2 separate regions of the Homo sapiens genome follow, and region 2 is linked to region 1. The links come from fine-mapping of genetic effects on gene expression. A gene starts in region 1. The other region holds a variant in brackets. All regions are shown on one strand. Distances are between the middles of the regions. Region 1 holds the start of EPHA5 (EPH receptor A5). Region 2 overlaps EPHA5 (EPH receptor A5).

The links. PIP is the estimated chance that this variant, and not a neighbour inherited with it, causes the effect. A credible set is the group of variants that fine-mapping cannot tell apart.
Region 2: its variant is the best candidate, but not a certain one, in a credible set for the expression of EPHA5 in sigmoid colon (GTEx, PIP 0.71).

The regions. Positions count from the first base shown.
Region 1 is chr4:65,668,277-65,672,276 of GRCh38, forward strand. EPHA5 (EPH receptor A5) reads right to left here and starts at 2,213. Exons shown (of 17, transcript NM_001281766.3): 1 at 1,286-2,213. The coding sequence starts at 1,466. It overlaps EPHA5-AS1 (EPHA5 antisense RNA 1), which reads left to right and starts at 1,685. Exons shown (of 4, transcript NR_034138.1): 1 at 1,685-2,397; 2 at 3,500-3,605. RefSeq lists an enhancer at 1-362.
Region 2 is chr4:65,560,410-65,564,409 of GRCh38, forward strand. The region is part of intron 3 of EPHA5 (EPH receptor A5); the gene reads right to left. Among named protein-coding and RNA genes, the nearest start is that of EPHA5-AS1, 110 kb to the right of the region's middle. The variant C/T (reference allele first, on the strand shown) is at 2,467.

The sequences.
Region 1 (4,000 bases):
AGTCACGAGGACACACACGACTCCACCACTGCTGCTTCATCTTTCCGGTCTAGTGTCCCGTGCCCAGGAGTGGAAGGAATTTCTGCAAGGTTTTGAGCCTCACGCGTCGCATCCACAGCCCCAAACCGAAACCTCACCATTCTAGCCAAAGTGGGTAGGTTTTTCTATGTTTTCATGGTGGAGCTGACAGATCTGGATCTGAGATACTGTTCCCGCCCCTCCGCGAGTAATGCGCCCTTGGGCTGAGACCCGAGCTCAGTCCGGGTGTGGGAGAGGAGCAAGCGCTGCTGGAGGGGACCCAAAGGCAGAGGTCTCAGGTCCAAGAGGCAGGCGGACAGAGGGGCTGAGCACTGTTCCGGGAGCACGAAGAGCGACACAGGTGTTGCTCCCGCGCCAGCTCTACTCTCCCAGAAAAAGGCAGGGACAGTATTCTGGGTCTGGAGCACAGGATTGGGGGTAGGGAGGGGGACTGGGTACTCCTGGATCAGGTGCTGGCCAGAGCAGGTCTTTTCCGTCTTTAAGACATGCCCAGGTGGGTTTTAGCGGCAACTTCCTAGCAGCGACACTCCCCCTCACCCCTCCTGCCGCGGCATCCCACCTTCTCGCCTTCTTCCACCTTGGCTTGAGTGTGACAATGAACTCCCCCAAGAAGAAGGGCACCCAACTGTGTGGGGCGCCTTCTGTCCTTCGCTATACCCCTCCCACGAGAAATAAAAGCTCCTGCCACCCACCCCAGAATAGCAGCTGGTGATGCCCTAAATAACAGCTCCCAGCAGGCACTTTCCCCAAAAATAAAAGCATCCAGCCACCCCCACAACGTTTCCCATCACTGGCCTCAAATAACGGTTTCTAAAAGCCCCACTGCTCCAGAGATCCTTGTCACTGAGCTTCCAACAGTTCCCACTCCTTCAAGCCCGAAATGTCACTTCCCCACGCGCCTTAAGTGAGGCCCAGCCGCACCCATCCCCCTGGAACGGGCCTCCATTCCCCAAAGGAGGCCTCGACCTCCTTTCCCCCAAGGTTTTCCACCTTCCCAGCCCCCCAACCAGCCTCTGTCCACACGCATGTTCCTTGCCCAGCACTCCGCAGCTAACGTCAAACAATGCAACCAAAAACCGCAGAGGGGAGCGAAAAGGCCAGTGGAAGGGGACGACAAATACCAATTTGAGATGAGACTGCGATTTAGTCTGCAGCAGCAGCGTCCAGCGCGCTGAGACCTGAACTCCCAGGCCCCGCCTAGCCCCTCCGCCCCAGGTCGCCACGGTCCCCACCCCCATCTCCCTACCTTCGTTGCTGGGGCTGGCCAGGAGGGTCCGGAGTGCGGCGCACAGGAGAAGGCACGTCCAGAGGGGAGCCCGTCGAGGTGCAGAGTAGCAGCCGGCCAGGGACGCTGGGGTGATGGGGGTGTCGCCGCCGCCGCTTGGGGGCCGCCGGCGTCCCGCACCCCGGGGCCCCGAGCCCCGCATCTTCTCCGAGCCTCCTCCGGTGCCGCTGTCCCGAGCGGCTCAGTCCACCGCTTCGGCCTCGCAGAGCGGCGAAGGGAGACTCGGGAGTCCTCCTTGTCCCCCCTTGGGGTCCTACGCCTTCTGGCACGCGGCTCCTCCAAATGTAGGAACCACGGATCCGGCTGAGACAGCTGAAGTTTGCTTCTGGCTCCTCTCGCCTCCCCCTTTGGTGGGGTTAAATGAAATATTAGTTCTGGTTGCTAGTGCAGATCTGGACTCGGATCAAGGGTGTCGAGAGGGTCCTGGGTCCTGTTCCTTTGCCTTTCAAAAAGACTTTTTACGGATTGAGAATTTTTAAATACCACTAGGGGAAAGGTGAAGGTTCTTTGCAGCCTTCAGTGTTGAAATGGACGAAGGTAAGGAAGGCAAATCATTTTAAGACGAAATCTCCGATTTTTTAAAAAAGGAGGAAAAAAGCAGGGTGGCTAAGGATAAAGAAAGAGGACTTGAGAAAATGTGGAGAATGAAAAACAGGAGAGCAGCGAGCAAAAGCAAAGATCCAGAGTTCAAAGAGACTGGCAGAAGGAAATAGCTGCGGGCTGAGTGCTGAAGAGGGGAGGGACTGACGGCTGCCGGCCGGTAGGAGCGCGGAGCTGCGCTGCGGCGGCCCAGGAGCTGCTGCGGTTCCCGCTGCTCGGGGAGCAGGCGGTGTGTGCGCGGCTGCGAAGTCGAGGTTGAAACTGCACCGCCAAGGCGCGCTCCTGCTGTGTCTGGAGCTCCGGCGTCTCCTCTGCCTCCCAGCTCAGCGCCTCCCACCCTCCTTCCCTCCTCCTCTTCCCAGCTCCCCCGCCCTCTGCTGCTCGCAGCCTCGCCAGTGAGAATCTACTGTAAGTGTGAGTTGCTTCGACGAAGTCACACACCCACGGAGGGAAGTAATCTGGAGGCTGCCTTGGTGAGTGTTGCCTAGCGGTCTCCGGGAAAGGCGCGTCTTCCTCCCGGGATAATTAGGGCAAGGAATCCTGACGACGCTGGCGAGGACTGGGGTTCCCGGGAGGCGGAAGGGAGATCAGCCCCAGCTCAGCCGGCGGCCCTTAGAGACGCGGGTCCCTCCGTTTGGCATCTTGCCTGCTGTCCCTCACAGGCTGTGGCATCAACAACCTTGTCGTCACATCGCCGCGCATTCGCAGGCTCTGCTGGTCCGTGGCTAGTTTCTTAAACACCCATACCGCTTACCGCTGCTGACTCTTTCTGTTCTTCCCATACTTTGATGGCTGGAATAGGATAATTACTCAATGTTTTCTTCAGAAGTAAATTGTAGAGTAAATAAAGAGGCGGTAGCTCTGTTTGAGATTTCAAGGAGTCAAAGAATTTGACTATTGAGATTTGTAGTGTGCCAGGTACTTTCATAGGTGGCGATTTAATTCATTTATTTCATTGATAAAATGTTTTAGTATTTTAGAAATTGGACGATATGCAGATACACGACATACATTCCAGTGAAATTAGCCTCGGTCAAATAAATTCAGGGTTTTGAAAAATTAATTATTTTAATTGATTGTGCCCTATAGCATTGGGAGATTTACAAACAGTGAAAAAAAAAACAGTTAAAACAATCAACTTTCTATGCTTCACCTCTATTATGTCTTTTCTTGCTTTAGTATATTCCCTCGATTTATTCATTCTTTCAAAGAGATACATTTGAAGGACAATTTTAGTACACAGGCATTTAAAAACAAAAGGCTGCAGAGAAAGCACTTACAGAAAGGTCTGATTATAGAAGAAAGATATCTCATTTAATTTCATGTATAGTAACCACTGTAAAGCTTGGGCTTCCGTTCACACCTAATAAAGGTGAGTCAGCTCACCAGTTTTGACATATCTAGAGCCTTGTTTGTCTCCACAATAAATTCCTCACTATCTTTAGCTGGTGACATTTGTTTTTTGTTTAAATATTTGCAATAAAGATGAAAGAATAAAGCAGCAGTGATGCAATTTTGTAAAGAGGTGAAAGCTCATCTTTGATTTCTTTTTTTCCTGAAATGTTTTGGCACCAGAAGTCTGAAAGCAGGTTCTTTTTATTATAATGTGCTCCGAATGGATGAAGCAAATTTAGAGGAAGAGCAGTGAATCAGTTTCTCAGTTTGGCAAAAAGCCTCACGGGTGAGATGGAAAGTTAAAATTTATGTTTCTATTTGAGGACCATTCAAAATGTAAGCTCCCCTCTCCCCTACAATTATAATTGAGTTACTTAAAAATATTTAAGCAGAATACCAACTACGATATCTAAAGCCCAGAAATATGTAGTAAAACTAATATGAGTTTAATGGGGCTTTGAGCTCGTTCCTTTACTTCTACAGGCTTCAGTATCCTCATCAGTAAAATGAGGAATTTGGAGAAGACAATCTTCAAGCCTTCTTCCCTTCCGTTGGTTGCATGTCTATGTGACTACCCTGTTCATCTATCTCCAATTATTTACTATTGGCCACAAAATAACCAAATTTTTCAGCCTAGAATTTAAAGCCTTCTACTACAAATGGTTTAAATATATTTTTTAT
Region 2 (4,000 bases), 110 kb before region 1:
AAACGGATATTTTTTCCTTCTCTGTATTGTTCTGAAGATCTTTTCAAATAATTTTATTCTGAGAAATATGACATCTTCTCCTGATGACATGAATAATGAATACATTACATGGAAATGTTTATCATTGTTAGGATAAACACGCTTATCCTTATATTTCATTTGCCCATCCCACTCTAGGAGAGATAGGGGAAGCCAATGCCATTTCTTTTTATTTCTACTCACTGTCAGTTTTCTTTGTCCATCTCTAAGTTGAAAGTTGCATTTTAAGTCACTGGAGTTGAGAAATGACAAAGGTAATACAAAAGTCCCTAGCTTAACCCTGAATGTTTATGTTCACATAAGTATTCTAGACATAATTCCTGCCTGTTAAATGACTCAAATAATATTCTGAGGATAAACAAAATAATATAGAATATAGATTTTATGCTTTCAGTCCTTTGAAAAATTATTTCTAAGTAAAATGCAGTGATTTTGTTTTTGTTAAATGACTCCATGTTACTTGAATGCTCAAGTAACTTTTTGAGGATCCTCTGTCCATCCATGTTGAGTCTTTAAATCACTAATTCATAAACTCTTGTCTAGAATAAAAATCTCATATTGAGTAAAACATAACTTTAAATCACTTCCATTAGTAAGTACAAGGCATTTATCGGTACCAATTAAGTATAGGAATTCATACTTTTTCTATCCCCGATAGGCTAGAAAGGTTTGACATGATGGAAAAAAAATTTCCTCCGTACCAACTGTAACATTTTTAAGGGACAAAAAACACAAACATTAAAAAAAAAACTATTCAGTCCCCTTGTTCTTAAAAATAAATGAGCTTTGTAAGATATTATTTATCTAAGAATGGGAAGACCTATCAAATGTCTATACTCATGACAGCAGCATCACTAGAATGCCAATCACTTTATTACGCAATCTGCCAGAAGCAAGTACAAAATACTGATGTTATTCACAGTCATAGGCATATAGGGTATCCAGGGTAGTCTCTCATTGTCCCTCTGTTCAGATCCATCATTCATAAGCACGGGCATCATTCATAGGCAGGGAGTAGACTGAGTGCAATGTGCTGAGGCATAACAGCTTAGCTGGCAGCTGTGTTTCTAGATTTAGGCTGTTCACAGTGGTCCATTGATCACATGTTCACTTCCTAATTTCTTGCAAGTACATAAATGCAGGATTGAGTAAAAGCAGAAAGTGAGAGTAACAGGAACATTAAGCCCCAGAAATTAAGACACATTGTATTGATTTAAATCTTTCAATGCCTGGACTCATCACCAAGTCCATGCACCTCCATTATACTAAAAGCCAAATACATATATTGATCTGTGGTATATTTCTTGGAAACCATAGGGTGGAATGAACCACAAGAGGTTGCAGAAGGGGAAACCATTCTAGGAAATAATTTTTAAGTAAGATTGATATACCAGAAAATTGAATATAAACATAAGTGCCTATAAAAATTTCTTTGCAGCTCTCAATACAGAAGAATTTGTCTAGACTCGCATTGAGGTCTAATATTATACACTGAGACATTTCTAGTGATCATCCAAATCTGAAAATATTTGGAACTAACCTGATAAATGTCTGCAATCTAGATAACCCTGATTATCAGAAAGTCAGCTACCTTCAACTGAATATCACAGAGCTCTTGATTCTTCTGATTATTTTGGATTTTGAGTCAAGATTGAAGGTCACTGGCCATCATGTTCTGAAAGAATTTGGCTTGCTAGGCATGTTATTTATGCTACAGACACAATCGGGTGGCATTTCTCAACCGCAATCCAAGTAAACTTGAAGATCCATAATTAAATTAATATGAATCAGTTATAAATTTCCCCCACTACTGAGGGATATTTTTGTACAAAATTTTATTGACACTAAGTAACCAAAGTTTAGATTTTTAACTTTTAAGGCCATGCTTCTCAATTGTTTCTTTTGCACATTTTGGAGACGTTTAGGGTTCTCCAAAATGACCATAAATATTTGCAGACCTTTAGGTAAGCTTAAACCCCCTCATGTTTTAGGGGAAAAAAGATGCATTTGGCTCTTCTTGAAACTAAATTTTAAATTGACATAAGAAAAATAAAAATTTTAGATAGTTGAAGTTGTTTTCAGAAGCAGTTCATATAAAAATTCATAAGAGAATGTTTGCAACTGTATATCCATGCATGTGGAAGACATATGGTTCATTATGCAAGGGGGTCACAGAGAAGACGCATACCAAGACATTCTTGACATTCTGAAAGTTAGTGACTTTTTCTATTACGTTACAATTCTCAAAAGGCAAGATTATTGTATAGAGCTTCTTCTCACTTTTTTGAAATATTCTGTTTTTAAGAAAATCTCAAAAGTCTTCAAGACACTGAAGATGCTGATTAATTAAATATAACATTTAAAAAAATTAGCCAGGTGTGGTGGTACATGCCTATAGTTGTAATTGTATACATGGTAATTGGTAAA[C/T]TGAGGCGGGAGGATTGCTAGAAACCAGGAGTTCAAGGCTGCAATGGGCTTTGATTACGCCACTGTACTCCAGACTGGGTGACAGAGCAAGACCCAGTCTCTTAAATAAATAAATAAATAAAATAAGGATAAAATAAATATACTATATGTAAAAGCTTTGCTTTAGTTAAAACCTTGTGATCATGATAAAATATACTTTCAAGTAGATCAAGTAGATATAAATTCTTTTTTTTTCTCACTATTTTCACCCTCCCACTGTTCCTATTGTTTTAGCCATACATAGTTCTGAGGAGCCATTTGGCTGATACTTACTTTAGATCCCCATTTGGCAGACCTGTCCCTTGTTCAAAAGTTGCTGAATTTTATTTCTCAGGTGCTGCTAAGGCGTTGATGGCTGATGAAAACAAAACTGATCACTTATTAGATAATATTTACATTTTAAGAGAAGTCTTCAGTTCCTTCACTCAAAGATTCAAGAAGTAAAGCATTCGAAATTATTTAGAGAAGCAAAAATATTTCAGCATCCTTCAATCACAGCACACAAGTAGCTTCTGATTCTAACATAATTATATGGAGTAGTATAATTATTTGTCTAAAAGAGCAGGTAACAAGAAATTACATAATGGTTAGATTTTAGGAAGTAGAGTGGAGTTAGAACTTTAAAAATTAAATACTTAGTTGGCAGATTTATTGGCAAAATTCTCCAGATATTACTCTAATGGGAAGAGACAGAAGAATCAGCATAAATCATGTGTAGCAGAAAGTACCAAATCCACATATCCTGTTCTAAATCAGTGTGAAAATTAAAAAACTCGAAGCAAGCACTCTTTTGATGAAAATATTTGGAAATTAGCACATGAAAACATTGTTAATTTCTAACTGGAGGAAAATAAAGCTATTTTTCACATTTCTGTCCTATTGAAAAGTCTGATGAGTAATGAAAGAGATTTTTATATGCAAAGTTGTGGGAGCTAAATGACATCAATAGTATGTGTTCAGAAATCTTCCCTCTGTTTAAAAAATATCAAAGGCTAATAAATCAAAACAAGTACTATAACATATTCCACAAATACTAGAAATTTTCCTCTCAAACTATTTTTTGCCAAGTATCCTTTATCAAAGGATTTGGTGCTAAGTGTTGAACAAAATTATCATCTGTTGTTCAGCCAACTTACTCTTTGCTATGCTTCACACAGTTTTAAACAAACAAACAAAAAATGATTTCTTTGAGGCCTGATTTTACTTGTGCATACATATTTCACCCTGTATTTCTGTATCACAAATAACTCAAGATAATCATTTTTCTTGCATATTAATTGAAGGTGCTCCCAGGAATACCACATAGACACCAACATTAGTTTCTAAATCAAAGTACCCATAGGAGTTCTTAACCCAAAAGATGCTTTGACTAAAATACTACAACCATATCAACAAATATTTCTAAATGATAGCTCCTATTAAAGTTTAGGTAATTACTGGGGTCCTAATTGCTAGAAATTTAAATATTACATTAGGAGATTGTCAAAATTACTTA